Regions from separate parts of the Homo sapiens genome. Here regions 1, 2 and 4 are each reported to be linked to region 3. Evidence: microRNA targets listed by miRTarBase, many of them from high-throughput screens and not tested one by one. Region 3 holds a microRNA gene; each other region holds the end of a gene's coding sequence.
What was found. The annotated mature microRNA hsa-miR-615-3p reads UCCGAGCCUGGGUCUCCCUCUU and lies in region 3 at 5,556-5,577, shown strand. An mRNA with a match to its seed (bases 2 to 7 or 8) in the 3' UTR can be bound and repressed. Matches are read on the target gene's strand: a 7mer-m8 pairs with bases 2 to 8, a 7mer-A1 pairs with bases 2 to 7 and ends in A, and an 8mer does both.

Region 1 (7,591 bases), not on the chromosome of region 3:
GGAAACCCCAGTGGGTGAAGCGCCTATTAAGGGAATAGTGGGAACAGGGCCACATCCAGGAGGGGCAGCCTTCACTCAGCGCACATTCAGTAACGGGGCCTGGAGTTTCTTTTTTTTTTCCGAGATGGCATCTCGTTTTGCAGCCCAGACTGGAGTGCAGTGGTACAATCATAGCTCTCTACAGCCTTGACCTCCTGGCATCAAGCAATCCTCCTGCCTCAAGCCCCAAAGTAGCTGGGACTACAGGTGTGTGCCACCACTCCCAGCTAATTTTTCAATTTTTTTGAAGAGATGGGATCTCACTATGTTGCCCAGGCTGGTCTTGAACTCCTGGGCTCAAGCAGTCCTCCTGCCTTGGCCTCCCAAAGTGCTGGGATTATAGGCATGAGCCACCACGCCTGGCCAGCCTGGGGTTTCTAGAACAGTGCTGTCCACTTGAAATCTGATGTGACACCCAAGGGGAGTTTAAAATAGTCTAGTGGCCACATTAAGAAAAGTAAAACAAGGTGGATGCGGTGGCTCATGCCTATAATCCCAGCACTTTGAGAGGCTGAGGTGGGCAGATCACTTGAGGAGGCCAGAAGTTCAAGACCAGCCTGACCAACATGGTGAAACCCCGTCTCTACTAAAAATACGAAAATTAGCCGGGTATGCCTGTAATCCCAGCCACTTGGGAGTCAGAGGCACGAGAATCACTTGAAACCAGGAAGTGGAGGTTGCGGTGAGCCAAGATTATGCCACTGCACTCCAGAATGAGACTCTGTCTCAAAAAAAAAAAAAAAAGTAAAATGAAACAAGTGAAATTAATTTTAATATTTTATTTATGTCAATATATCCAAAATATCATTTCAACATGTAATCAATATAAAAATTATTAGTGAGGCATTTTCCACTCTTTGGTACTAAGTTTTTGAAACCCATCGTGTATTTACACCAATAGCACGCCTCAGTTTGGACTCGCCAGGTTTCAGGGGCTTGACAGTCACACATAACCACTGGCTACCCTACCAGACAGTGCAGCTACAGAAACTCTGGTTTTTCTACGACAGTTTGGACATCCATTCTGTGGCAGGTTTTAAAATGTGAAATCAGGCCAGGTGCGGTGACTCACACCTAAAATCCCAGCACTTTGGGAGGCCCAACTGGGCGGATCACGAGGTCAGGAGTTCAACACCAGCCTGACCAACATGGTGAAACCCCGTCTCTGCTAAAAATACAAAAATTAGGCCGGGTGCAGTGGCTCACGCCAGTAATCCCAGCACTTTGGGAGGCCAAGGCAGGCAGATCACTTGAGGCCGGCAGTTCGAGACCAGCCTGACCAACATGGAGAAACCCCATCACTACTAAAAAATATAAAATTAGCTGGGCGTGGTGGCGCATGCCTCTAGTCCCAGCTACTTGGGAGGCTGAGGCAGGAGAATCACTTGAATCTGGGAGGCGGAGGTTGCGGTGAGCTGAGATCGTGCCATTGCACTCCAGCCTGGGCAACAAGAGTGAAACTCTGTCTCAGAAAAAAAAAAAAAAAAAACAAAAATACAAAGATTAGCCAGGTGTGGTGGCGTGCGCGTGTAGTCCCAGCTACTCAGGAGGCTGAGGCAGGAGCATCGCTTGAACCCAGGAGGTGGAGGTTGCAGTGATCCGAGGTGGTGCCACTGCACTTCAGCCTGGGTGACAAAGCAAGACTCCATCTCAAAAAAAAAAAGTGAAATCGGTGGGTAACAAATACAAAATAAACGTTGGGCAGTCCAAACGAAACACACCTGCCTGGGGCCATCGTGGCCTGCAGAGCACTAGTTCACAAACCGGACGAAAGGATATGAGATGTGGGGAATCAAATTTGGGTTCCATTAGTCCTTTTTTGGAGGCTTCCTGTGTGGCTGGCCCTGTACCTGGAGGTGTAGAAATAACTATGTGGTCCTGCTGGGTATAGAGAGAAAACAGCAGCAGTGCAGTGAGACAGGAAGTGTTCTGACATGGAAATGAGAGGACTCAGCACTAGACGTCCCTCTGGATAAGCATGGGTGTGTCACTTACTGTCTCTGGGCCCAAGTTGTATTGGCTATAAAACTAAATAATTAGACAGATTTTTTTTTTTTTTAAAGACAGGATCTCTGTTGCCCAGGCTGGAGTGCAGCAGAGTCATCATGGCTCACTGCAGCCTCAACTTCCTGGGCTCAAGCAATCTTCCCACCTCAGCCTCCTGAGTAGCTGGGACTATAGGTAAAGGCCACCATGTCCAGTTAGTTTTTTGTTTTTTATTTATTTTTTTTTTTGAGATGGAGTCTCACTCTGTCACCCAGGCTGGAGTGCAATGGCTCGGTCTCGGCTCACTGCAACCTCTGCCTCCCAGGTTCAAGTGATTCTCCTGCCTCAGCCTCCTGAATAGCTGGGACTACAGGCACATGCCACCACACCCAGCTAATTTTTGTATTGTATAGTAGAGACGGGGTTTCACCTTGTTACCCAGGATGGTCTCGATCTCCTGAACTCGTGATCCGCCAGCCTCGGCCTCCCAAAGTGCTGCGATTACAGGCATAAGCCACCGTGCCTGGCCTTTTTTTTTTTTTTTAAAGAGAGTGTCTCACTCTGTTGCCCAGTCTGGTCTTGAACTCCTGAGCCCAAACAATTCTCTCACCTCCACTTCCCAAAGTGCTGGGATTACAGGCGTGAGCCACTGCACCCAGCTAAAGAATTGAACCGGATTTAGATGGATGCTTTTCAGACTATTCAAAGAGATGCCGGCCGGGTGCGGTGGCTCACGACTATAATCCCAGCACTTTGGGAGGCCAAGGCGGGTGGAACACCTGAAGTCAGGAGTTCAAGACCAGCCTGGCCAACATGGTGAAACCCCATCTCTAAAAAATACAAAAACTAGGCTGGGCACAGTGGCTCACGCCTGTAATCCCAGCACTTTGGGAGGCCAAGGCAGGTGGATCATGAGGGCAGGAGTTCAAGACCAGCCTGGCCAAGATGGTGAAACCCCGTCTCTACTAAAAATACAAAAATTAGCCCGGTGTGGTGGTGGGCGCCTGTAATCCCAGCTACTTGAGAGGCTGAGGCAGAGAATTGCTTGAGCCCAGGAGGCGGAGGTTGCAATGAGCTGAGATTGCGCCACTGTACTCCAGCCTGGACCACGGAGCGAGACTCTGTCAAAAAAAAAAAAAAAGAGAGATGCCTTGGGGCTGGGCACGGTGGCTCACGCCTGAAATCCCAGCACTTTGCGGGGCTGAGGCAGGAGGATCACTTGAAGTCAGGAGTGTTTGAGACCAGCCTGGCCAACATGGTGAAATCCCATCTCTACCAAAAAATACAAAAATTAGGCCGGGCGCGGTGGCTCACACCTGTAATCCCAGCACTTTGGGGGGCTGAGGCAGGTGGATCACCTGAGGTTGGGAGTTCAAGACCAGCCTGGCCAACATAGTAAAACCCCGTCTCTAAAATACAAAAATTAGCTGGGCGTGGTGGCGGGCACCTGTAGTCCCAGCTACTTGGGAGGCTGAGGCAGGAGAATTGCTTGAACCCAGGAGGCGGAGGTTGCAGTGTGGTGAGATTGCACCACTGCACTCCAGCCTGGGCAATAGAGGGAGACTGTCTCAAAAAAAAAAAAAAAATTAGCCAGGTGTGATGGTACACGCCTGTAGTCCCAGCTATTCTGCAGGCTGAGGTAGGAAAATCACTTGAACCAAGGAGGCGGAAGTTGCAGTGAGAGAAGATCGCGCCACAGCATTCCAGCCTGGGAGAGTGAGACCTGTCTCCAAAAAAAAAAAAAAAAAAAAAAAGAGGTGCCTTGGGCTGAGCAGGCAGCAACACAACCCCCTTCCCCAGTCAACCCCAGCGAGCGAGCAGCCCCGCTCCTGTGTTTTCCATATCGGGCTTCCAGGCACAAATCTAAACAGAAGGTCCCTTGACTTAAGAGAAAGAAACAAAAAACCGGCTGAAAAACCACACAGCGTTGGTTAAACACACAAGCTCTGGCATCACGAAGTCCAGGTGCAAAGCCCACCTTTGCCACTCACCCCTCTGAACCTGTTTCCTCATCCACAAAGTGCCCCCTCTGTAGGGATGCTGTGAGGGTTGCAGGAGTTCATCTATGTAACACACAGTACCTGGCACATATCAAGTGCTCAGGAAACGCCAGCTCCCTGCCTCCTCAGGCTTCCAGAGCCAGCCTCCAGGGAAGCTGCAGACAGTTAGGAAGGTCTTAGAGGACATCTAGGAAGTTTGACCTAGTCAAGGGTCAAAAATCCAAAAGCCAACAACAGCCAGGCAGGTAACGTAAGTGAAGAAAATAGGCCAGGTGTGAGGCCAATCTGGAGAGAGACAAGGAAAATATTTCACTTTCCTCTTAACTTCGCAAACAAACAAAAATAACCACACGGCATCAGCCCAATAATAAATGTAACAAGCCTGCAGCCAAGTCCTGGGGACTGTGGTGAAAAGAGCTGCGTCCCATCCATTCAGATCCAGCCATCTGTTGCCACCCAGAAATGAGGACCCAGCATTGTTAGACTGATGGATTTTTTTTTTCAAGAGAAGCCAGAAATGTGAAAATCTGGTTTTTAAAGGCTAGCGACCCATTCTCTTTTTTTAAGGAAACAGAATGCCTCAACAAAAAATGTCAAGTGAGGGTAGGACGGGGGCTGCCCATGTGTGGTCCCTGACATACATGCTCTTTTTTTTTTTTTGAGATGGAGTCTCACTCTGTTGCCCAGGTTGGAGTACAGTGGTGTGATCTCGGCTCACTGAAATATTCGCCTCCTGGGTTCATGCAATTTTCCTGCCTCAGCCTCCTGAGTAGCTGGGACTACAGGGGCACACCACCACGCCCAGCTAATTTTTTTTTGTATTTTTAGTAGAGACGGGGTTTTGCCATGTTGGTCAGGCTGGTCTCAAACTCCTGACCTCAGGTGATCCGCCCGCCTCAGCCTCCCAAAGTGCTGGGATTACAGGCATGAGCCACCATGCCCAGCCAATTCTCCTGAAGGTCCTCTGCAACCCTGAGGGTTTGGAGAACCATCAGACAAGTTCTGTGCCAAGGTAAGAAGACTCTTCAAGATTCTCTCCAAAACCTCTTCCCAGCAGCACGGCGAGGAACTGCACAGCTGAGAGTCTTGGGAGACCCAGTTTCTCCTCTTCCTGCTCCTCCTAGGCCTCGTCGCCTACAGATAGTCAATAAGGCAAAAGCAGAAGCAGAAAGAGGGGCGGGGGCGGGACCCCATACACACCAGGGACAGAGTGGCAAGGAGCAGCAAAAGAAAGGTTTCATTTTCTTCTGTTTATTTCAAGAGAACAAAGATTCAACCATCAGTTCTGTACAAAAACATGGTGTGAGAGCCATGGGATCCTCGGGCCAGCCCCCTTCCCGCACTTGAGCCCCGGGCCCCCCTAATTTGCCAAAAAACCAGGAGAAGACCAAAAAATTCAAACTCTGGGGAAAAAAATTACTATGAAAAAAAATCAGGGGAGACCTTCCTGGGCCTCCCTTTCTCCCTATCCCCAATCTAGAAATTTAGTGGGGGTCGCGGTTCATGGCCATGGCAGGAGGTGGGGCAGATGGGTGTCGGCAGATTTAGTGTTTGGCAACCAGTGGGGCTGGGGGTGGGATCTGGGAGGGAGCCGAGGGGCCTGGGGAAGGGAAAAGATCTTGGACCCTGCCCCGGCCCATAGGACACTCAAAAACACTTTATAAAAATTGGGGCCACAGAGTAGAAGAAAAACGAGTCATCAGAATCAAAAACTAAAGAGTGGAAAGATTTTTTTTTCTTGTCTAAAAGGCAAAAAACTACAAACAGCCCAAGTCCTGAGCTCCCCAAGACCTGGATCCTCCACTGTCCCCCTGAAACCCGGCAGGAGGCGGGATGGGGAGCACAAGAGGTGGGTTCTTAAAAAAGTCACCCCTGGATGGGAAAGCTCTTCATCTTCTGCCGCCTTCCTCTGCCTCCCGCTGCTGCCGAGGAGAGAGATGGAGAGGACCGGGGCTATGCCGGCAAACTCAACTTCTTCCCCTTTAGGACTGTGAGGAGAGAAAACAGGGAGGGCATTACCGCTGGGGCCCCTGCAGGGAGGGGACAGCCTCCCACAGCCAGAGCAGGGCAGGCACGCTAGATGGGCAGATCCACAGGGAGGGAGGTCCCCCAGGACTCACAGATACATTCCTGGTTTCTTTCCTTCCTACCCTTTCTCACTACTGGCAATTTTCTTTCTTTCTTTTTTTGAGACAAGGTCCCACTCTGTAGCCCAGGCTGGAGTGCAGTGGCATAGTCACAGCTCCATGCAGCCTTGACCTCCTCAAGCAATTCTCCCACCTCAGCCTCCCAAGGAGCTGGGACCACAGGCGTGCACCACCATGCCCAGCTAATTTTTTTATTTTTTTATTTTTTATAGTGACAGGGTCTTGCTATGTTGCTCTGGAACTCCTAGGCTTAAGAAATCTCCCTGCCTCAGTCTCCCAAAGTGCTGGGATTACAGGTATGAGCCACCATGCCCAACTAATTCTTTCTTTACTTGTTCATTCACCATCTCCCCCACCAGAATAAAAGGGAAATGGAGGCCTTTGTCTATCTTTTCTCCTCCTAATGTATCCCCAGAGCCTAGCACCTGGCTGGGGACATAGAAAGTACTCAATACATTTGTTGCATGAATAAATGAATGAATTTCAGTGGGCTGAGTCCCTGCCCTGCCTGGCCTACGCTCCAAGTGACATGGGGGCTAAGGACAGAAACTCCTTAGCCCTTAGGGAGGCAGAGGCTAACGGTCTGAATTCCTAGGAGGATGGTAGGCCTGCCACCCCAGAAACCCGGCGAAGAAATGCTCCCTTCTTTGCATAATACAGGGGTAAGGAGACCCCAGTCCCCAGGGAGGGCAGGAGCTGCAGAAATAGGAGGTTCCCTTCCAGCCGTCCCACATTCCAGCTACCTTTGGTGATATAGAGGTAGAAGAAATCGCAGTAGAGGACTGTCTGGACCAGGCCTGCCACAATGGCGATGAGGTCGAAGAAGCCCTCGAAATGGTAGCGCCAGATCCAGTTGAAGAGATAGAGCGTGCGGTAAACGCCTAGCGCAAACAAGTAGTGGCTGGTGATGGTCTCCGCCTCGCCGGTCTTGCTCACCATGAACAGCTGCGGCAAGATGGCCACTGACTCCAGGTAGATGGAGAAGGTCCAGAGGATCTGCAGAGAGGCCGGGGACATGATGAGGTGGGAGGGGACAGGGCGGGAGAAAAGGCAGAGGACAACATTGCAGTTACAGGTGCCGCGAAGGTGGAGAGAAGGAAGGTGATCCAGGTGCTGCCAAGTGCCAGACACAGTTCTGCCCGAGTTACTGGTACCTCTGATTTAATCATCACCATGGCCCGGCGAGGAGATCCTATGATTAGCACACTTATTCTACAGATGAGGAAACTGACACCAGAGAAGGTAAGATACTCGCCCAAGACCATGTAGCCAGCAAGCAGCAGAGCAATGATTCGAACCAAGGATTCGCAGTCCGTTCTCATGAACACTTTGCAATTGCGCCTCTCTGAAAGGCAGGCTGGGTTGGAATCTTGCCTTGGAAATTTCCCTTCCTTTTTCTTTTTCTTTTTTTTTTTTTTG
Region 2 (7,591 bases), not on the chromosome of region 3:
AATGCCAACGCTTTGGGAGGCTGAGGTGGGCGGATCATCTGAGGTCAGGAGTTTGAGACCAGCCTGGCTAACATGGTGAAACCCTGTTCCTACTAAAAATACAAAAAAAAAATTAGCCGGGTGTGGTGGTGCGTGCCTGTAATCCCAGCTACTCAGGAGGCTGAGGCAGCAGAATCGCTTGAACCTAGGAGGTGGAGGTTGCAGTGAGCCGAGATCGTGCCATTGCACTCCAGCCTGGGCAACAAGAGCAAAACTCCACCTCAAAAAGAAAAAAAAAAAAAAAGGCCAGGCATGGTGGCTCATGCCTGTAATCCCAGCACTTTTGGAGGCTGAGGCAGGCGGATCACAAGGTCAGGAGTTCGAGACCAGCCTGACCAACATGGTGAAACCCCGTCTCTACTAAAAATACAAAAATTAGCCAGGCTTGGTGGCGCACACCTGTAATCCCAGCTACTTAGGAGGCTGAGGCAGGAGAATCGCTTGAACCTGGGAAGCGGAGGTTGCAGTGAGCTGAGATCGTGCCACTGCACTCTAGCCTGGGCAACAGAGCGAGACTACATTTCAAAAAAAAAAAAAAGAAATCTTTTTGTGTGTAGGATTCTGATGTTGTAAAGAGATAAAGATTGATGCTGTCAACTTCTGGCCTGAGTGGGCAGTGTGCATAGCTGCAGTGTTCTAATAGCCTGTTTTCTCCTTTCTGTCTCTCCAGCTGTCCCTGGGACACCCCAGTATGTGGACGAGCAGTTCCTGTCACGCCTCTTCCTATTTGTGGCCCTGGTGATCATGTTCTGGCTCCTGATTGCCTAATGCTGGGCTCCTGCCTACATCCGTGGCAGGGCTCTGGACTGGTGACGTGCCACCCCAACTCCTGGTGTTTGGCTTCCTGGCTAATCTTGACTCCTGGAATCAGTGGGATCAGTAACACATCAAGGAGTCTTGTTTCTTCATCAGAGCTTTGGAACTCGAGACCAGTTGGCGATGACCCCTGAATATCGCCACCGCTGTAAACACTCTATAACTTCAGGCCTTGGCATTGAGTCATCTCTCATGGGTGACACCATGAAATCTTGTTTCAGCCAGTTCTGCAGGTCCTGACTCTGCAGAGGGAAGAGGCAGAAAGAGAGAAACTGTCAGAGTATAATTTCACCTGAGTTTAATATTACAGAAACAAAGGGATGCACCAAATGGTATTTCTGGAAATTTTCATGTCTTTAAATACCCCTTGGTAAGTTGCTTCTGAAGCCAGTGGGGGCTCCTCAGATAGAGAGGTTCCCCTTTCAAATCCCAGTGCCGCTCTGTTCTCTTTCCTTCCCCTCCCACTCCCCCTCTTCTTCCTCTGTAGAGATGCAAGAAATTGCTGTCCCATAAAAATCATAATTGCAGTAGCTAAAGCTGGGGTCACTTCGTGAATTCACCAGAGACTCAAAGATCTTTTATTGGCTCTGGGCTGTGCTCAGTGTCTTTGGCCTCAGAGAACAACTTGAATGACTTCCTGGTTTCCTGGCATAAATTATTCCTGGTGAGACATGTGGCTTAACTCACAGGTTTCCCATCAGCTTTCTCCCTAAAACTATGTTCATCTGCCTCTCTCTGCCAGAGAACATACAGCCGAGAATACTGCCGAAGCTGAGACTGACTACTGTGCATTAGGAAAGACCTGGAGTCAGGACTTTGGTGGGATTTGGAGCTCCGAGGCAGTAATAACTGAACAAGCAGCCCTGTCCCCTAGGCTGCAGAAGCTTGAATGCATCCTCTCCCAGAACCTGCCACAGGAAACTGGGGGCTTTGTCAGGTCAGCCCAACTGCATGCAAAAGACCACCATCCTCAGAAGCCAAGTTGTCTTTTATGAAGAGGCAAGGAAAGGGGAAACCCACATGTGACCCTGATTTTGGTATGGCTTGATAGAGTTCCCTGAAAACTCCTTGTATGTGTGCTAAAACCAGGGAAGCATGTGACTGCCAAGCAGGCAACCCCTGATGATTTGTAAAGCCAGGTGGCAGGGCCTTGGGGAGCCCCAGCACAATGATATTGTGTGGTCTTCCCTCCTGTGGAATCGAGGGGAAATTATTCTTCCCAATACCTTGATTTGATTTTCAGTTTCATAAGCTTCTTCCTCTGAATCTTATTGAGGGACTATGGTACCAAGCAGGTAGGACTGTTCACCTGGTGGAACAGTTCTTGCTCTGCCTTCTAGGCTTCATCCCAGAAATCCAGCCTCTTTCTGGAGACCCCAAAGCTGGAGGGAGATGGGCTTTCCTCTGGGCCTCTCTCCTACTTTGCCATCCACACTGCTCCTGGCTAACCCCAGCAATAACCAACAAATGGTAGGAAGCCCCATCTATTGCTTTTTCTCAATTATGACTGCATAGTTTATGGAAACAAAGATCTTGAGGAAGATGAGGGAAGCCCTCCCCTCTTCACAGTCCCCATCTCTTCTCCTTTGTACCTGTCAACACCAGAGTTCAGTGTTTAAACAGACAAAATATAAAGTATTGAGTAGGTGGTTCATATGCCGAATCCACTTGGTAGGAAGAAACCACCAGCTTTATAGTGTGCCTGATAGATTTTAAACATTCCTGGGCACCCACTCAAGAGTGCTCTTTTTATCACCTTCTGGAAATCCGCAAAGTTGCAGGGGCCTCTGGAGTGTCTCTTCTCTAGAGAGAATTGGTGGGACCCCCCTCAGTGCAGTGGCCCCAACTAGTGGAGGGAGAGAGGACTTAAGTCAGATGGACTCAACAGAAATGGGTTTCCAGAAGAATAATGAAAAGTTGTGGGTAGGAAAATGAATCATTTGGACTCTTCAATGAAATGGAGTGAGCCCAGGAGAGCTCAGCCAACAGAGGCACTCTGGGAACCTGTTAGTAAAGCCAGGCTGGCCAAATGCCATTTGATTTTGAACCTCGTAGGTCCCCACTCACCCTCTGCCAGGAGCTAAGTAAGGCAGGAGAGCTGACTTGGGACTCCTGGCTCGGCCCCAACAGGGAGCCCCCTTCCCACCATCCCTCGGCAAGCTCACCACCTCATCCTTCTGCCAAGGCAGCTTTCCTTTCTTTTGTGTGTTTTCTGTGTTCTTAGCCTCCACCCTCCTCCTGCCACCCTTGTGGACTAGGACCAGGTCCTGACCCCAGTCAGAAAATGATGATATGTACAGTGGCACACCTTAACCAGTCACTAATTTTCACTGTTGTGAAAGTGATTTGATTTAGAATTAAACAAATGGTTTTACATTACTATGAGCTTGGACTTCTTGTCTGTGTTGTGGAGGGCGAGTGGGTGGGGAGTAGTCACACTGGTATGCCCTCCTGGAGGCTCCTGTGCATCCTCCGTAATGTCACACTGAGAACGAAAGTCTTCAAAGAAGCTGGGCATGACTTATGCCTGTAGTCCTAGTTACTCTGGAGGCTGAGGCAAGAGGATTGCTTGAGCCCTGAGTTTCAAGGCTGCATTGAGCTATGATCATGCCACTGAACTCCAGCCTGGGTGACAAAGCGAGACTGTCTCTTAAAAAAAAGGAAAGAAAGTCTTTAAACGACTATTGATAATTAGAGATGATAAATGTAGGCTGGAGGCCTGGCTTCATACACAGCCTTGCCCAATATAAAACCTGTCTGACAGGCAGCCCCAGTCCTGACAAGTACATGGCATTCCTGAGCTTCGTAAGTGACAAGCTGCCACAATAGAGCTTAGCTTGTCACTTATCAGAGCCTTTAGAACAATCAGGTTACTCACTGTCAGCGTCTCTCCATCTGTTTAGTAACAGGGCAGGTGGGCTGTCAGCCAAGTCCTCTCTCTCGAGCAGAAGGTGTGTCCCTCCCTAAGGTTCCTTAGTAGCAGGGTGTAGTGTGAGATGGAAGATGTTGCTGAGGTTACAAATCTGGCCCAGCCTCAGCCTTCCCAACATGCCAGAGCTACAAGTAATTCCTCTGAAAAGAGCTTTTTTTCTTCCTCTTAGATTTTGATCTAACAGTTATCAAATTGAATAGTACCAAGATACAGTGGGGAATGCAAAGGTGAGGGAACTTCAGGAGCTCATAAGCCCAATGAGAAAAGACCAGGTTTTTTTTTTTTTTTTGAAAGATTTTAATTTTAGGCCAGGCATGGTGGCTTACACCTACAAACCCCAGCACTTTGTGAGGCTGAGGTGGGAGGATCGCTTGAGGCCAAGAGTTTGAGACCAGCCTGGGCAACACAGGGAGACTCCATCTCTACAAAAATAAAAAATATTAGCCAGGCACAGTGGTGCATGCTTGTGGTCCCAGCTACCCGGGAGGGAGGCTGAGGTGGGAAGATCACCTGAGCCTGGGAGGTCAAGGCTGCAGTGAGTTGTGATCATGCTAGTGCATTCCAGCCAGGGCAACAGACCCTTTTAGAAACAGGGTCTTACTCGGGTGCCCTGGCTAGAGTGCAGTGGTGTGATCACAGCTTACTGCAGCCTGGAACTCCCGGTCTCAGTAGGTTCTCCCACCTCAGCCTCCCAAAGTGTTGGAATTACAGGTTTAAGCCACCATGCCCGGCCTTAGGTTTTTGTTTTCGATGGGGAAAAAAAAAAAAAAACAGTAGTAGAACAGGACAATAAAGCCTCCATGTAGCCATAACCCAACTCCAGTAACTATCAACTCAGATCAGTCTTGTTGCATCTATACCTCCCGCACGCTGTTCCTCTCCCACTGTCTGAACTATTCGGAAACAAACCCCAGTCATGTCATTTATTAAGTATTTCGATATGCATCTCAAGTATTTTAAAAACAAGCAAAATATGCCGGGCACGATGGCACACACCTGTGATCCTAGCACTTTGGGAGGGTGAGGCGGGCGGATTGCCAGAGCTCAGGAGTTTGAGACCAACCTGGGCAACATAGTGAAACCCCGTCTCTACTAAAATACAAAAAATTAGCCAGGCGTAGCGGTAGGCGCCTGTAGTCTCAGCAACTCGGGAGACTGAGGCAGGAGAATCGCTTGAACCCGGGAGGCAGAGGTTGCAGTGAGCCGAGATCGCACCAGTGCACTCCAGTCGGGGCGACAGAGCAAGACTCCATCTCAAAAAAAAAAAAAAAGCAAAATACCTTTAAAAAATTTCTTAAAATCATCATATCCAATCACATTGTTCAGATTTCCCTAGTTGTCTCATAACTTGTGTAGTTTCAATTGAGATCCAAATCAGTTTCATACATTGCTATTATTTGTCTCTGAATTTTTTTTTTTTTTTTTTTTGAGACAGAGTTTCACTTGCCGCCCAGACTGGAGTGCAGTGATGCGATCCCAGCTCACTACAGCCCCCGTCTCCCGGGTTCAAGTGATTCTCATGCCTCAGCCTCCTTGGTAGCTGGGACTACAGGCGCCCGCCATCATGCCTGGCTAATTTTTTGTTTTTTTGTGTGTGTGTTTGTGTGACAGAGTCTCGCTCTGTTGCCCAGGCTGAAGTGCAGTGGCGGGATCTCGGCTAACTGCAAGCTCCACCTCCTGGGTTCACACAATTCTCCTGCCTCAGCCTCCCAAGTAGCTGAGACTACAGGTGCCCGCCACCACGCCCGGCTAATTTTTTTTGTATTTTTAGTACAGACGGGGTTTCACCATGTCAGCCAGGATGGTCTCAAGCTCCTGACCTCATGATCCACCCGCCTCAGCCTCCCAAAGTGCTAGGATTACAGGGGTGAGCCACCTTGCCTGGCCTGTCTATGAAATTTTTTCTACTCTGCAGTTTATCTGTTAAAGAAACTAGGTTATTTGTCCTGTTGCATTTCCCACAGCATCATTTTTGCTATTTGCATCATGGAAATGTTATTAAGCTCCTCTTCTCCATGTATTTCCTGTAAGTTGGTTGTTAGATCTAGAAGCTTGACCAGATTCAAGCTTATTATTTTTGTTTTGTAAGACTACGTCATAGGTGATAGTATATACTTGGTGCGTCTTACCTGGAGGCACTTAATGTCTGGTAGTCCTACTTTGTGATGTTACAGATGCCACTATATCATTTAGAGTTGAGAAACAAGACTGCACTCTGGGCAGAGTGGGGCACAAAATTACAGAGAACCTGGAGAGCTGGTTGTTGTAGGAATGGCAGGTGGCGCAAGGCAGGATGTGCTCAGGAAAAAGCAGAGTCCTGGAGTGAAGGGAATAGGGAGACAAGTCCGCAGGGTGAGATGTAGTCAGCTCATGAGGACTGGTTTGGCTTTTATTTTGTAGGCAGTGGGGTGCTGTTGAAGGGTTTTGAACAGAGAGATGACAGGTCCAGAAACATACTTTTGGAAGATTAACACAGTCAGTTTTGGGTAGGATGATTCAGGGAGGGCAGAGACTGGCTCAGTTTGAAGCAAGTGGAAGTGACACTGGGCAAGTCTGGTTGGGTACCAGTGGACCAGTACCTTCAAGAGGGCAGAACCTTGAGTTGTTTTTCAAGGTCCAGGTTTCAGGATCCTAGGCTCAGAGAGTTGACTGTGAGGCGGCTGGCAGGATCTGGCCCTAGGGACTGACCAAGCTATGGCCAGTGAAACAAACTGTGGACAGGTAACCTGGGTGCTATTGAAACTCAGTTGGTCTACTCCCTGCCCAGGCTTTCTCTACCCTCCAGAAGTCCCCCTTGAGTTCACAAGTGATTTCTGGAATGTTCTTTGGGTCCATATTAAAAATATATCTCTTGGCTATAGCATTTCTATAGAAAGCTATTCCCTTCCATTACATTTTCAACTTGTGTTTCTCAGAGTCGCCTGAACTTCCCTGGGAGGAACTTGGGGGACTTGGCTATTCCCCAGCTCCCTGCTGGTGAAGACCATGAGGCTGGAGGTAGGAGGAAGTGGAATGTGAGAGAGAATGAGGAGGGAGAAGAGATAGACCTGGGTGCCTTGGTGTGGAACGGAGGGAGAGGGAAGACACCCAGGAGGTTTTGGTTCCCAGGATGCCAGTGCTTTGTTGCCTGGGAAAATACAGTGTTACATCTTTCTGTAGGAAGGATGGGGAAAGTCCCTGTCCCCTGTTTGCTAGCCATGAGGCAGCTTGTCAGGAGAGTCTCTGGATTCCTGTCACTTTAATTCAATACACAATCTTGTGTTTACTATAATGATTTCCTCAGAAACTACAAAACTGAGTACTGAAAAGAGTTCCCAGGAATTAACGGAAATGGGACAGAGCCCTCCTCCCCAGCACTTTGTGCACACTCAGGACATCGTGAGCCACCTGCCACACCCAGAAGAGAAAAATCTGACCGGCATCCGGTTTGAATTAGAGCAGGAAGGAAGAGAATTGTGCTCGCCTTTGTCTTTGCCTTTGCCTTTGCTTACCCAACTGCTGGGACCAGAGGCAGCTGGGTTGAACTTTGTCTTTGGTCAGGGGTGGGGGTGGAGGGGACAGAATCCATTTCCCTGGGCTCCATCCTCTTTCTGGTCATTTGGACATGTTTCCTGTGATCTAAATCTGATGTAAGGAAATGACAATTGTGAAAGACCCAGCGTGAGAGAATCTGATGGGAGGGTGGGTCATCAGGGACCAGCTGGCCTGGCTGATGATGTATTAATATCTTAATCACACAGAGGACCCCAATCTCCTTCCAAACCTAATGAGCGGAAGTGGTTCTCAAAGCTACTCAGCCAGCTA
Region 3 (7,591 bases):
CGAGTACAAACTGGAGACAGAAATAAATATTAAAGAAATCATAGACCGACCAGGTAAAGGCAAAGGGATGAATTCCTACTTCACTAACCCTTCCTTATCCTGCCACCTCGCCGGGGGCCAGGACGTCCTCCCCAACGTCGCCCTCAATTCCACCGCCTATGATCCAGTGAGGCATTTCTCGACCTATGGAGCGGCCGTTGCCCAGAACCGGATCTACTCGACTCCCTTTTATTCGCCACAGGAGAATGTCGTGTTCAGTTCCAGCCGGGGGCCGTATGACTATGGATCTAATTCCTTTTACCAGGAGAAAGACATGCTCTCAAACTGCAGACAAAACACCTTAGGACATAACACACAGACCTCAATCGCTCAGGATTTTAGTTCTGAGCAGGGCAGGACTGCGCCCCAGGACCAGAAAGCCAGTATCCAGATTTACCCCTGGATGCAGCGAATGAATTCGCACAGTGGTGAGTTTTACAGCTCCGAGATATAAATTAAATAAACTGAACTGGCTTTATGACCGGCTTCCCTAGAAGAACGGGCGGAGAGAGTTTTTTATGGCCCCATAAAAACAATCACGCTCGTCTCCTCACCGAGACAGGGCCCCCTCTTCTGCCCCCTCAGCTCGCCTCTCGCTCGCTTGCAGGGGCCTGGCCCCCTTGGCCCCTGACGGATTGGAGGGCCCCAAGGCGGGCTGAGGGGGCAGGAACAGGGCAGGGGATGAGGGGAGGGAGCAGAAGATAGGGGAGCCCCCCAAAGTGGAGTCAGTCTGAGGAGAAGGGAGGGGGAGAGGAGAGGCAGATAAGTGGGGAGAAGTTTCCAAGGAACTAGGATGCTTGGGGAGATGGGGGAGCCCAGTCCTTGAGAAAGGGGGCCCTCATCCCCATTATCTGGGATTTTTCAAAAATCTGCTTTTAGACTTGCAGCTTTCTGTTTGCCTTTTGCCCCGCCCCCCCGCCCCCCCCCCCACCACACACCTTTCTTTGGGACACACAGGTCCCACCTTATAGGAGGTCTGAAGTTGGGGTCCTCGCTGTACCCCCAGTGGGGGTGGGGCAAGGCAAAAGGGAGAAGGCTAGAGCCCTAAGGAGGCTGTGAGCTGCTGGCCAGGTTGGGAGGGTCAGGACTTTGCTAGGCGAAACAGTCTGCAGAGGACGCTTTGCTGATTGCTTTTAGTGTGTTTTGTGCCCGGATCTTTAGGGGTCGGCTACGGAGCGGACCGGAGGCGCGGCCGCCAGATCTACTCGCGGTACCAGACCCTGGAACTGGAGAAGGAATTTCACTTCAATCGCTACCTAACGCGGCGCCGGCGCATCGAGATCGCCAACGCGCTTTGCCTGACCGAGCGACAGATCAAAATCTGGTTCCAGAACCGCCGGATGAAGTGGAAAAAAGAATCTAATCTCACATCCACTCTCTCGGGGGGCGGCGGAGGGGCCACCGCCGACAGCCTGGGCGGAAAAGAGGAAAAGCGGGAAGAGACAGAAGAGGAGAAGCAGAAAGAGTGACCAGGACTGTCCCTGCCACCCCTCTCTCCCTTTCTCCCTCGCTCCCCACCAACTCTCCCCTAATCACACACTCTGTATTTATCACTGGCACAATTGATGTGTTTTGATTCCCTAAAACAAAATTAGGGAGTCAAACGTGGACCTGAAAGTCAGCTCTGGACCCCCTCCCTCACCGCACAACTCTCTTTCACCACGCGCCTCCTCCTCCTCGCTCCCTTGCTAGCTCGTTCTCGGCTTGTCTACAGGCCCTTTTCCCCGTCCAGGCCTTGGGGGCTCGGACCCTGAACTCAGACTCTACAGATTGCCCTCCAAGTGAGGACTTGGCTCCCCCACTCCTTCGACGCCCCCACCCCCGCCCCCCGTGCAGAGAGCCGGCTCCTGGGCCTGCTGGGGCCTCTGCTCCAGGGCCTCAGGGCCCGGCCTGGCAGCCGGGGAGGGCCGGAGGCCCAAGGAGGGCGCGCCTTGGCCCCACACCAACCCCCAGGGCCTCCCCGCAGTCCCTGCCTAGCCCCTCTGCCCCAGCAAATGCCCAGCCCAGGCAAATTGTATTTAAAGAATCCTGGGGGTCATTATGGCATTTTACAAACTGTGACCGTTTCTGTGTGAAGATTTTTAGCTGTATTTGTGGTCTCTGTATTTATATTTATGTTTAGCACCGTCAGTGTTCCTATCCAATTTCAAAAAAGGAAAAAAAAGAGGGAAAATTACAAAAAGAGAGAAAAAAAGTGAATGACGTTTGTTTAGCCAGTAGGAGAAAATAAATAAATAAATAAATCCCTTCGTGTTACCCTCCTGTATAAATCCAACCTCTGGGTCCGTTCTCGAATATTTAATAAAACTGATATTATTTTTAAAACTTTATACCGGGAATTCTGTTAATTCGCTCGCCCGCCGGCCTCAGGGTGAGAGCTGGAGCAGGCTCCAAGCGCTCCCGCGCCTGCCGGCCCCCTGCAAGCCCCCAGCCCTCTGCACTCGCCTTCCCCGGAGCCCAGGCGCCCGGCCCCGGCCTTCTGTTCGTTCTCGCGATCGCACTGAGGGGCTGGGAGGCCTCTCTGGGCTCCCTGCGCGGAGCAACACACACACCCTGCGGGAAAAAGCCGCGTAGGATTTTGTTGCGGGGGGAGCTGGGATCAGTCGGTTTGGGCACCAACCCCACGCAGGCCTTTCTTCCTGCCTGTGGCAGCCGGTGTCCTCGGCGTCCGAACCCTGAGGCGCCCCGAAAGACCAGTAAAGAAGCACTATCCAGGCACCAGGGTCTCCTCCACCCACTCCCGGGAGTTGGAGGCGGGGGGCGCCGTGAGAGCAAGCCCCAGGCCCGCGCCAAGCTGGCTGTTGCGAAACGTAGCGGAGGCGGAGAGCGGAGGGAAAGAGAAGACCGCGGGACTGGAGCCCTGTCGGCAGGGATTGAGCGATTCAAGGACATCTCGAGAGAGAAAGCCTGGAAACTGAGCTCTCGCCTGCTCTGGTACTCCTGACGTGGCCGGGACAAAATTCCTTCTTCATTACAGCTCCAGCCGGGCTGGTTCCTTACTTTTCTCTCCTCAAACGGGTGAAGAGGCGGGTGAGGAGCGCAGCCGGACCCTAACCATTTATCAACCCTGGCCTTCTCTCTCCAAGCCTGGCCAGAGAAACCTGAGTGGGCCTACAGGGAGAGGTGTTGAGGAGGGTCTCCGGAGGGAAAAAATCCGCCAGAGTTTTCCGGGCCCTTCAGATTCCCTCCAGCGCCCCCACCCTCGCCTCCAGTGCCTCCACCAGTGAGGAGGGGGCCTTCTCCTGGCGGGGCGGAGATTTCCTGGGAAGAAGCAGGCAGGGAAGTATGAGACTTGGGGCTACGGGGGAAGAGGATGGGGCCGAATGGCTGCAGATACCCTGCGAAGGCTACCCAGGCGCCTGCCCTGCCCACCCCCCAGGTCCGCCCCATTCCTCTTGGTAGCTCAGAAATTGCTCTCTTGTGAACCTTATGGATTCAGGTCCCTGGAAAGCCTAGCCCAGAGACCTTTTCCCCAAAGGGCACATAACGGGCCTTTTCCTCTGCCATGCTCACGTAATATTTGTGGAGGCTTCAATCTTGCTTCTCCATGTCCTCAATTAACATCTATTTTCTGTCTAAAACCTCTGGCATAGGTACCACATAAGGATCGCACACAGGGAAACAGAGCAGTCCTCTAGACCATTGTCTGGCTCTGTCCGTGTCCACACACACACTTGAAAATTGCCTTGTTGCCACTCTGGGGACCCTAGCATGGTGAGGTCTAGCCAACTCCACCTGGCTCCTCACCTCCAGATCCATCCCAAACAGCCTGCAACACCCTCAGCTTCATGACCCCCCTATCTTGTTCTGACCACTCAGGATCCCTCCTCCTGGGCGTCCTGTCTACCTCTTCAGAAGCTAATTCTACTTTCTCTTGCTGATAGGCACCTCTTCAGCAGTAGTGGAGCCTTAGGGCCTGAGAGGCAAGGGACTTCTACCTTTGGTTTAGGGAACCTAAGTTAAACCCCATTGGTTCTCCAGCCTGGGCATAGGCCACCTTACCTAACTTAATCCCCTTTCCTCAGCCATTTTTGAAGATTGGAAGACCCTGGAGGTTGGGAGAACGGGACTTTCATTACAAAAAGCACTCTGTGCGTTATAAGTGGGGCCTCGTCTTTTCCCAATTTTAAATAGAATTTAAAAGGCTAGCTCAGGGGTTGCCCCAACAACCAGCTTCTCCTTCACAGTGTAGGAAATCCAGCCACCGGAAAGCAAGCTGGCGCTCCAGGATGCAATTCCCCCACATAGGCACCAGGTGTCGCTGTGGGCTTGTTGTCCCGGCTACCCCCAATTCCAAGAACCTTTTTTTTTTTTTCCCTCCCCCTTCCCTCTTTCTCTCTCTCACTCCCTCTCCCCCTTGGTTGGGCTTTGCCAACATATCGAGATGCTTTTCGCCGGCTTCCATCACTAACCTCCCGGAGGTCATCAAGCCAAATTTATGAGTGGCCGCTCGAGTCACGTGACTCTATTTAAGGCTCCCTTATTTGGGAAGAGCGCATAGGATAAAGAAAGAGATATCTCCACCTATAAATTGTCCACTTTGGAGAACAAAAAACCCCTCAACTTCAAAGAGTCACAAATCACCCTTAATCAAAAAGGGTGCAGAAATTTTTTTGGGCCCTCCCCGCCATGAGCTCCTACGTAGCCAATTCATTCTATAAGCAGAGCCCCAATATCCCTGCCTATAACATGCAAACTTGTGGGAACTATGGATCGGCCTCAGAGGTGCAGGCATCCAGGTACTGCTACGGCGGATTGGACTTAAGCATCACTTTCCCACCGCCTGCGCCTTCCAACTCTCTCCACGGGGTAGACATGGCTGCCAACCCCCGGGCTCACCCCGACCGCCCCGCCTGCAGCGCCGCGGCCGCTCCGGGACACGCTCCGGGCAGAGACGAAGCGGCTCCTCTGAACCCCGGGATGTACAGTCAGAAGGCGGCTCGCCCGGCGCTGGAGGAGCGAGCTAAGAGCAGTGGGGAGATCAAAGAGGAGCAGGCGCAGACAGGGCAGCCCGCCGGACTGAGCCAGCCACCGGCCCCGCCACAGATTTACCCGTGGATGACCAAACTGCACATGAGCCACGGTAAACTTTAGGACTTCATTTTGCGCTCTCGGGTCCGCCTGGGTTTTATAGGCCATGCGGGGCAAATAAAGAAAAAAAACCTGCGGCCATAAATTTTACGATCCAGGCATCAATGGCTCGTAAAACTGTCCACTAAAAGGCTTAGAGGCTGTGTGCGCCCAAATTTACGACGACATAATTGGATCATAGGAACAAAACGTGTATAAAAGGCAATATTCAATTTTTGGGGGAGAGGGAGGGAGTTAAAAAAATAGAGGGATCTGAAGGGTGAGGAGCGCGGGGCTCCAGAGCGGGGATCCCCCCGCGGCTCCCTCCCTCCCTCCCCTGCGGAGCCGGCTCCGCCGGCGCTTGCGGCTCCGGAGGATTCCAGCGACTCGGGAGGGGCGGGAGGGGGGTCCCCGGTGCTCGGATCTCGAGGGTGCTTATTGTTCGGTCCGAGCCTGGGTCTCCCTCTTCCCCCCAACCCCCCCTCAGCCCCTCCGGCTGCAGAGTGAAGGCTGCGGTGGAAAGTTTCCTGCCTGGGCGGAGGCGCCTCTCCCGGGGCTGGGCTGGGCTGGCCCGCCTGCGGCCCGCGTGGCCTGTCTTGCGGCTCTCGCCTCCTCTCCCTCCGGCCGCGGGTGGGGGCCTGGGCTGGGGTGGGGACGGGGGAACGCTGCAAGCTATTCACCCCTTCCTGGCTTGGGGTGGGGTTTATGTTCCAGAGACGGACGGCAAGCGGTCCCGAACCAGTTACACGCGCTACCAGACTCTGGAACTCGAGAAAGAATTCCACTTTAACCGCTACCTCACTCGCCGCAGGCGCATAGAGATCGCCAACAACTTGTGTCTCAATGAGAGACAGATCAAGATCTGGTTCCAGAACCGCAGGATGAAGTGGAAGAAAGATTCCAAAATGAAAAGCAAAGAGGCTCTTTAGAGGCAGCGGGGGAGGCCCGCAGAGCGCGCCCCTAGCCGGTTCCTGTCCCTGCGCCTTTCCTTTTCGCCTTTCCTCTCTATATTTCGGGTCGGGGGCAGGTGCTGGAGCACTGGGCTCCCGGGCCCCACAGACAAAAGCGCTTTTCCTTGGCATTCCGCATCCCTACCGACCCAGGGTTCCCGCGGGGCTGTCGGCGCTGCCCCATCTCCCCTCAGCTCGGCTCAGCTCGGTACCCGGGGCCCAGGGCAAGCTCCGCAGGACTTCCCCGGAGGGCTGCGGCGTACAGGCTGGCGCAGAACGAACCTTGGCCTGGGCCGTATCTCCGGCTCCCAGCCTCAGCGCGGCCCTCCCGAGTTAAGGTGGGCCCGGCCCGCGCCACAGGACCCTCGCCGGACCCTCTAACCTCGCCCTCTCCTTTGTTCCCGGCTGGACGGGTTAGACAGCCAAAGGCTGGCGAGAGTCTGGCCCTAGACTCGGGGTGCTTCCTTGTAGCGACTAAACTAGATTTTCACTTATGAATGATTTGCATATGAAAGGAGAGCATCGGCCTAGGGCCCCCACAGTTGCTCTATGCTTTCCAAACCTTATCTCCACAACCTCTTCCCCCCAAAACCCGGGAACCTCCCCAGCCTGCGCCTGCTGCATGCCCTCTCAGGCCGGCAGCCCCAGCCTGCTAGCTAGCTCAACTAGTGGGGTTTCCTGGCACTGGACCCCAGCAAGTGGTCCTAGAGGCCCTTTGCTGTCCCATAGTCCCTGCCACGAATTTCTGTGCCCTCCTGACCCATTGCTGTTGTCCAACTATTTATTGACTCTGGGTCCTTCCTGAAACTATATTTTGTCATATCAAATAAAGAGAGAACAGGACTAAAGATGCAGTGGCTCCTGTCTGTTTGGGGCATGTATTGGGTAAAATTGTCTAAATGGGCTGTGAGATGTAGAAGGAGACCCACAAACTTTAAGCCACCCCTTTAAAAAATTTTCTAGCTTCTAGGGGCAGTGAGTAGAGGGAGGTGAAATTGAGCTCCTTTCCTGTTCCTTGGCTGCAACAAGAGCCTCTGGGGGAAGAGAAGGGCACCTAGGCCTCGAGTACTGGCTTTTCCCATGCTGTGGCTGTCCAAGGCCTTCACGCCTCTGCACTCCAGGAGGCCTCTGGACTGGCAGCAGCCCCCACTGTGTGCCAAAGCTGCGGTGCAGGAACCAGTGGCTCCACCGTGCTCAGCCTTAGGACCTTCTGGGCCTCTGAAGATCTTTCCTGGGCCTAGGTGGTCCCTGAGAGGCCTTGCTGGACATAGAGGGAGGGCTGAGCCCTCACTCTAGGGACCCATTTGGTCTCATAAGGGCCTCTAGAGGGAGGTGGTATTGCTTGGTAAGGGGGTGTTGGGAGAGTTGGAGGAGGTGTGCCTCAGTATCTAAGATACTGGGGAAGAGGGAGCAGGGAGGACAATCTGCAGTGTGTATCAGCCTGGCAGGAAATGTTCAGACTGTTTCCACCACCTTCTAGGGCCTCGGGCTATGCAGGACAATTAACTGGGAAAGGAGCTGCATAGACCAGT
Region 4 (7,591 bases), not on the chromosome of region 3:
CGGAGACATTTCCCCCTTCACCTTCCTGGTTTCTGACTTTAATGCCTATGGACATCATGTGGGGTTTAAAGCCCATTTGATGACCCATTTACTTTGTTGAATACCTCTTTGTGCCAGGCAAAGAATAAAGTGGAATAAAATGGACAAGATCCCTGCCCTCAATCTATTAGGGAAGATATTCTTGAAGTGAGAGCGGCTAATCATAGGCAAAAAATCCCCATGAAGCCAGGAGATCTGGGGCAGAGAGTGGAGTGAACTCACTTTTCACAATGACCCAGCAACATGGGAGAGGGTGGGGGCTGGATTTCAGCCCAGCCACTGTGCTGATGGTGCACAGCCCTTTAATGCTGTGTATCATCTCTTTTCTTCACAGTGCCATCTCTGTGGAGCTGTACTACATCTTTGCCACAGTATGGGGTCGGGAGCAGTACACTTTGTACGGCATCCTCTTCTTTGTCTTCGCCATCCTGCTGAGTGTGGGGGCTTGCATCTCCATTGCACTCACCTACTTCCAGTTGTCTGGGGAGGATTACCGCTGGTGGTGGCGATCTGTGCTGAGTGTTGGCTCCACCGGCCTCTTCATCTTCCTCTACTCAGTTTTCTATTATGCCCGGCGCTCCAACATGTCTGGGGCAGTACAGACAGTAGAGTTCTTCGGCTACTCCTTACTCACTGGTTATGTCTTCTTCCTCATGCTGGGCACCATCTCCTTTTTTTCTTCCCTAAAGTTCATCCGGTATATCTATGTTAACCTCAAGATGGACTGAGTTCTGTATGGCAGAACTATTGCTGTTCTCTCCCTTTCTTCATGCCCTGTTGAACTCTCCTACCAGCTTCTCTTCTGATTGACTGAATTGTGTGATGGCATTGTTGCCTTCCCTTTTGCCCTTTGGGCATTCCTTCCCCAGAGAGGGCCTGGAAATTATAAATCTCTATCACATAAGGATTATATATTTGAACTTTTTAAGTTGCCTTTAGTTTTGGTCCTGATTTTTCTTTTTACAATTACCAAAATAAAATTTATTAAGAAAAAGGCTCATGCAGTTGGAGGTTTTGGTCTGGATATAGGAACTCGAGCCCTGCTGTTAAGGGCACGGTCCTTTATAAAGCCGAGCTGGCCACTGAATGCCCGAAGCTCGAGTTCTCCAACCCAGCTTGGGAACTCCCGGCGTGGGGAACCTACATTGCCAGAGTCGGGTTTCCGCGATTCAGCCGGTGCTCAGCCTAACGGAAGTGGAGGAGCCGGACCTCTTTGTGGGAAGCGAATTGAATCACCTTGGCAACCCGCGGGGCGTGCAGCAACGCCCTTTCCTCCGGAAGTGGGTGTCAGAACCTCCACGTGCTGTCCCTCCCCCTCCCCTTTTCGGCCCAGTAGCGGCGGCTCAGTTGCTGCCATGGAGTCAGCCGGGCTAGAGCAGCTCCTACGGGAGCTGCTGCTACCGGACACCGAGCGCATCCGTCGGGTACGGAGCAGGCGTAACCGGGCCAGGGCGAGCGGGAGGTTGCGGGAAAGGCCCAACTCTCACCCCTAGCTTCCCCCCAGGCCACGGAACAGCTCCAGATCGTTCTTCGGGCCCCCGCCGCTTTGCCGGCTCTCTGCGACCTGCTAGCCTCGGCGGCCGACCCCCAGGTGAGACCCCTGACTCTCCCCTCCGAGCTTCCCACTGTACGCCACCGGTCAAGCCCCAGTATTCGCCCACTGCGGTCCGCTCAGCACCTTCCTGCCCGGACCCCCACGTGCTTGCTTCCTCGTCCTAGATCCGCCAGTTTGCGGCCGTGCTGACCCGCAGACGACTGAACACCCGCTGGCGACGGCTGGCGGCGGAGCAACGGGAGAGGTGGGCTGGGCCTGGGGTGGGGCGGGGCCAGGCGGAGACTTTTCTTGGGCAGGCTGGGTACCAAACACCTGCCACCTGTGTTCCAGCCTCAAGTCCCTGATCCTGACGGCCCTGCAGAGAGAAACAGAGTAAGTACCTACCCACTTCTCTCGGGATCTTGACGACTTTGTCTAGGTTTCTGCCTTCCTTTTCGGCTCCAGGCTGGGACTTGTGGGGCAGGGACTTCAGTTCTAGACGCAAGGTGGAGTGAGGATTTTAAGGCTGTTTTGAAGACTAAAGTTCTTGAGGAAGGGTGATGATGATCTGCCAAACCCAAGTCAGAAGAATAAGACTGAAATTCAGGCTAAGTTAGACTGAACTTACCAGATTACATGCCCACAGTGCTGTTGGGCTCCCTCTGAGCTGCTGTCTCATGTGTCCCAACTTGGCAAAGACCCTGTGCCCACACCTCCTGAAAGTTTCTGTCCTGGCTGCCCCATTGAGCCTGGCCACTGTGTGCAGAGGAAGGTATTGAAGGGTGATTGGAGGAGATCTCTCCTGTTTGCAGGCACTGTGTGAGCCTCAGCCTGGCCCAGCTCTCAGCCACCATTTTTCGAAAGGAAGGCTTGGAGGCCTGGCCACAGCTTTTGCAGCTGCTTCAGCACAGTACCCACAGCCCCCACAGCCCAGAGAGAGAGGTACCATCACATGGTTGGCAGGAGGGAGGGCCTGAGAGGCTGGATAGACCTTGTAAGCTTGCTCTCCCATCCTCTATTCTTGGACAGATGGGGCTTTTGCTGCTAAGTGTGGTGGTGACCTCCCGGCCCGAGGCCTTCCAACCCCACCACCGGGAGCTTCTTCGGCTTCTGAATGAGACTCTTGGTGAGGTGGGCTCTCCTGGGCTGCTCTTCTACTCCCTGCGCACTCTGACCACCATGGCTCCCTACCTCAGCACTGAAGATGTGGTGAGATGTGGGCCCTCGTTATCTTTGACTCCCTTTCCTCATGCCTTCATGTCCTCACCCGTAAAAGTTACAAAGCTGCTTTGGATTCTTTACCTGCCTGTGGCCCTTCCTGACAATTGAGAGGGGATGCTGTAGGTGGGCCTGGCTGTTATGCCTGGGCTCCTCCTCGCAATTCAGGCTGTGAGGAAGCTGCCAGCTGCTGGGGTGTGAGATTGGGCTGCATCATGCTCTCTGTGATGTGTCCCTCAGCCTCTCGCTCGGATGTTGGTGCCCAAGCTGATCATGGCCATGCAGACTCTGATCCCCATAGATGAGGTGAGGACAGGTGGGCAGGAGCTCTGTTGGAAGGAGAGTGCAGAAGTGTCCAGTTTGGCCCACTGAAGAAGAGCATGGTAACCTTGTGCCTTGTTTGTCTGTCAGGCAAAGGCCTGTGAGGCCCTTGAGGCTTTGGATGAACTGTTGGAGTCAGAGGTGCCGGTCATCACCCCCTACCTCTCTGAAGTCCTCACATTCTGCCTGGAGGTGAGCCTGGAGTGGACATGGCCCCTGCTACATGCTCTGCTGGGACTCTCCTTCCCTGTCGCTGATTTTTATTATTCTGTGGACAGGTAGCTAGAAATGTGGCCCTGGGCAATGCGATACGCATACGTATTCTCTGCTGCCTCACTTTCTTGGTCAAAGTCAAGAGCAAGGTAAGTGAGTGCCCATTGACACACATCACCCCACCCCCATCTCCACCCTTAGTCTCACTCCTGGGGCTTTCGGTCCATCTCAGGGTATCTAAAGTACTGTGGGGGTTCAAGCCTTGGCCTGGCCTCACCCCAGCTCCTGCCTGGGAGGTTGGGAATTTTCTGTCAGACCCCTTATGGCCTGGAAGACTGGAATTTTTAATGTGAGCCCATCCTGGGAGCAGATTCTTAGGGACACTGTTCCACCTTCTCTGTCAAGGCCTTACTGAAGAATCGTCTCCTGCCACCCTTGCTGCACACCCTTTTCCCCATTGTGGCTGCTGAGCCCCCACCAGGCCAGTTGGATCCCGAGGACCAGGATTCAGAAGAGGAAGAGTTGGAGATTGAGCTGATGGGGGAGACTCCCAAGCATTTCGCTGTACAAGTGAGATGTGGGGCAGGACAGAGGGGGAAGGTGTTAGGTGGCTGTGGGACGTTGGGGAGGCAGAGATGGAGTCAAGCAAAGTAAGTCTCCCCATCCCATCTCAGGTTGTGGACATGCTGGCACTACACCTGCCCCCCGAGAAGCTCTGTCCCCAGCTGGTAAGTGTGGCTCTGTCCTTCTGGTGTCCCTACCTCCAAGTGTGCCTAGTCCCCCTGAGGCCAACGACGTTTAGACCCTGGGAGGTGTGAAGGCCTATTACCACAGGAATGGGCAGGCTCTTGCTGGGGTTTCAGAAGCGTGCCACATGCTTCCCTAGATGCCCATGTTGGAAGAGGCTTTGCGGAGCGAGAGCCCATACCAGCGCAAAGCTGGACTCCTGGTGCTGGCCGTGCTGTCTGACGGAGCTGGCGACCACATCAGGCAGAGGTATGTATTCCCCTGTCCCAGGGTGAGGGTTGCCCACAGGGAGGACCATGGCTGTCCTGGTTTACGCTTGTTGTTCAAGCTTATTTATCAACAGCGTTTCCCCCCATTATCAAAAGTGTCCTGGCTTGGAAGATAAATGACATGGCTTACCAGCTATAGGGACCAGGGGCTGCTGCCCACCCTCTGGTGACAGGAAAAGCCTTGGTTTTTCCAGGGAAAATGAAGAGAACAGGTCAGCCTAGGGCTCTCAGGTGTAGCTTCTCAGCCTATGTCCTCTTGTTTGCCCCATCCAGACTGCTGCCCCCACTGCTGCAGATTGTGTGCAAGGGCCTGGAGGACCCCTCGCAAGTTGTACGCAATGCTGCGCTGTTTGCCCTGGGCCAGTTCTCAGAAAACCTACAGGTGAACCAGGCTGAATGTGGGAGCCACCACTTGAATGTCCCCTTCCCCTCATCTTTCATCTCTTCAAGCATCCCTGCTGCCATCAGCACTCTTGTGTGTGCCCGGCAGGTGAACCTGACTCAGGCCCTGCTTGCTCCCTCCCCCAGCCCCATATCAGCAGCTATTCAAGGGAGGTAATGCCACTGCTCCTCGCCTACTTGAAGTCGGTGCCTCTTGGACACACACACCACCTAGCCAAGGCCTGCTATGCCCTGGAGAATTTTGTGGAGAACCTAGGTAGTGATGGCAGTGGGGAGCTTGGGGAAGGGGGATGAGGCGGCGGCTTTGGCTGAATGTACAGGATGTGCATCTCCCTGCATTGCTGCCTGTGGTAGGGGAAAGGGTGTGATGGTGCCAAAAAAAGGTTTCCGCCTGGAGGGAGGTGGGCGTGCAGGTAGCAGACCTGGGTTGGTTGGTAGAGGAGCATCCTTTCCCACAGGGCCCAAGGTGCAGCCCTACCTTCCGGAGCTTATGGAATGCATGCTGCAGCTTCTGAGGAACCCCAGCAGTCCCCGGGCCAAGGAGCTGGCTGTGAGCGCCCTGGGAGCCATTGGTGAGGAGAGAGGCAGGAGGCAGGGATGTGGGGTTCACCCAAAGGCCCTGTGGCTGGTGGTCCCTGCCCTCTCCAGCTCTGATTCTGTCCTTCCATCCTGCAGCTACGGCTGCCCAGGCCTCGCTGCTGCCCTACTTCCCTGCCATCATGGAGCACCTGCGGGAATTCCTGTTAACAGGCCGTGAGGACCTTCAGCCTGTGCAGATCCAGAGCCTGGGTGAGTGAGAGGTTCCCAGGTGGGGCTCCCAGTGCCAGCAAAGGGCTGGTGCTCACCTGGTGTTGACAGATTGCCCCCACAGGAGCACGGATGTCTTCCTTCTCATCAAAGGGGTGTGCTTCATGCTGTACCAAGGGGTGGGGCGGGATTTCTGAATCCCTCCCAGCCACCACCTTTGGTCCCGTAGCCCACCTCCACCTCCTGGTGCTAATGGAGCCCTTGCCCCCACAGAGACACTGGGGGTGCTGGCACGAGCAGTGGGGGAGCCCATGAGGCCGCTGGCTGAGGAATGCTGCCAGCTGGGTCTGGGCCTCTGCGACCAGGTAGACGACCCTGACTTGCGGCGCTGCACGTGAGTGACCCCTCACCCTGCCTCTGCCCTTGTCCCCTCCCCTCCTGTCTTCCCACTGGACCCACTGGAATCCCCACCCCAGACTCCAGTCGTCTGGTTTGGACCATAGCCAGGTGTTCCCGGGCTCCCCCATCCTGCCTGGTGGTAGCAGGCAGGACCTTACAGCTTCTTCTGCCTGCTTTGACCAGGTACAGCCTATTTGCAGCCTTATCGGGTCTGATGGGTGAGGGCCTGGCGCCCCACTTGGAACAGATCACCACGCTCATGCTGCTGTCACTGCGTTCCACCGAGGGCATTGTGGTGAGCAAAGGGTGGGTGGGCTGGGCCAGGCCTGCCCTGCAATGGGATTTATCTCCTGGGCCCAGCTGAGCCAAAGTCCTTGCCGTGCCTCCGCTCCAGCCTCAGTATGACGGGAGCAGCTCCTTCCTTCTGTTTGACGATGAGAGTGATGGGGAAGAAGAGGAGGAGCTCATGGATGAGGATGTGGAAGAAGAGGATGACTCAGAGATCTCAGGGTGCGGAGGGGTGCTCTTCTGATCAGGAATCTAGACTTTGGCTTTAGACAAGGGCCTAGTGCTGGATCTGCTCCTCTTGGTGCCTGATCACCACTGCCTCCCCTTCTTACTCTAGGTACAGCGTGGAGAATGCCTTCTTCGATGAGAAGGAAGACACCTGTGCTGCCGTGGGGGAGATCTCTGTGAACACCAGGTGAGCATTCGCCCTTCCCTGGCACTGAAAACCCTGCCTGGGGGCCCCTTACCCACGGCTGTGTCTCTCTCTGTAGTGTGGCCTTCCTTCCATACATGGAAAGTGTCTTTGAAGAAGTATTTAAACTGCTGGAGGTGAGCGGGCCGGCGGGTGGAGTGGGTGGGGTTCTCAGGCTGGGGGCCCTGTGTTCACGGTGCACATAGCAGACATATCCCGCCCCTCCTCATCCTGCAGTGCCCTCACCTGAATGTGCGGAAGGCAGCCCATGAGGCTCTGGGTCAGTTTTGCTGTGCACTGCACAAGGCCTGTCAAAGCTGCCCCTCGGAACCCAACACTGCTGGTGAGGAGAGGCTGGGCCAGGCTGGGGGTTCTTGGGGAGGGGCAGGGCCTGACTGGTGCTTCAGCCAATAATGTCCCCAGCTTTGCAGGCTGCCCTGGCCCGAGTCGTGCCATCCTACATGCAGGCAGTGAACAGGGAGCGGGAACGCCAGGTGGTGATGGCCGTGCTGGAGGCCCTGACAGGGGTGCTCCGCAGCTGTGGGACCCTCACACTGAAGCCCCCTGGGCGCCTCGCTGAGCTCTGTGGCGTGCTCAAGGCTGTGCTGCAGAGGAAGGTGAGCAGGGCAGGTGGGCTTCGGGAAGGAGAGGTGCTGGGCCTCGGTTGGGGACTGGCTACAAGTCCACCCCCTACCCCCATGAAAAGAGAAGGGGCGTGAAAGCTCCGCTAAGTTGAGCTACTTCTTGTAGACAGCCTGTCAGGATACTGACGAGGAGGAGGAAGAGGAAGATGATGATCAGGTGAGAGCCAGGGATAAAAACGGGGACCAGGCGGTCCAGGCAGTCTCCACAGGGACAGGGGTGGACAGTGTATTTGGGCTTGGCCTGGGGCAGCCAGGGCCACTAAAAGAGACTGGTAATGGCCAGAGGGATACAACCCTGATCCCACTAAGCCAGTGGGAGTTCAGGGAAGGAGAGCAGTGTGGACTGGGGTGTGCTTGG

Region 1: miRTarBase lists KDELR1 as a target of hsa-miR-615-3p. The part of its 3' UTR that is shown has no 7-base or 8-base seed match.
Region 2: the mRNA of RNF185 is a reported target of hsa-miR-615-3p. Seed matches in the 3' UTR shown: 7mer-m8 at 2,970-2,976.
Region 4: the mRNA of TM9SF1 is a reported target of hsa-miR-615-3p. The part of its 3' UTR that is shown has no 7-base or 8-base seed match.

Annotation. Positions count from the first base shown.
Region 1 is chr19:48,377,315-48,384,905 of GRCh38, forward strand. KDELR1 (KDEL endoplasmic reticulum protein retention receptor 1) reads right to left here. Exons shown (of 5, transcript NM_006801.3): 4 at 6,916-7,168; 5 at 5,261-6,013. The coding sequence ends at 5,979. Among named protein-coding and RNA genes, the nearest start is that of KDELR1, 10 kb to the right of the region's middle.
Region 2 is chr22:31,203,780-31,211,370 of GRCh38, forward strand. It overlaps RNF185 (ring finger protein 185), which reads left to right. Exons shown (of 7, transcript NM_152267.4): 7 at 710-3,240. The coding sequence ends at 807. Among named protein-coding and RNA genes, the nearest start is that of LIMK2, 4.7 kb to the right of the region's middle.
Region 3 is chr12:54,028,455-54,036,045 of GRCh38, forward strand. It overlaps MIR615 (microRNA 615), which reads left to right and starts at 5,496; the gene lies at 5,496-5,591. It overlaps HOXC6 (homeobox C6), which reads left to right. Exons shown (of 2, transcript NM_004503.4): 1 at 1-467; 2 at 1,201-2,369. The coding sequence starts at 68. The coding sequence ends at 1,508. HOXC5 (homeobox C5) reads left to right here and starts at 4,596. Exons shown (of 2, transcript NM_018953.4): 1 at 4,596-5,122; 2 at 5,824-6,907. The coding sequence starts at 4,669. The coding sequence ends at 6,038. It also overlaps a transcript of HOXC4 not described here. RefSeq lists enhancers at 4,111-4,405, 4,400-5,551 and a silencer at 5,635-5,694.
Region 4 is chr14:24,182,591-24,190,181 of GRCh38, reverse strand. TM9SF1 (transmembrane 9 superfamily member 1) reads left to right here. Exons shown (of 6, transcript NM_006405.7): 6 at 374-1,033. The coding sequence ends at 767. IPO4 (importin 4) reads left to right here and starts at 1,366. Exons shown (of 30, transcript NM_024658.4): 1 at 1,366-1,463; 2 at 1,544-1,630; 3 at 1,759-1,838; 4 at 1,925-1,966; 5 at 2,386-2,515; 6 at 2,603-2,782; 7 at 3,032-3,097; 8 at 3,203-3,304; 9 at 3,391-3,474; 10 at 3,731-3,895; 11 at 4,000-4,053; 12 at 4,212-4,321; 13 at 4,615-4,723; 14 at 4,870-4,999; 10 more. The coding sequence starts at 1,395. RefSeq lists silencers at 1,795-1,914, 2,160-2,370.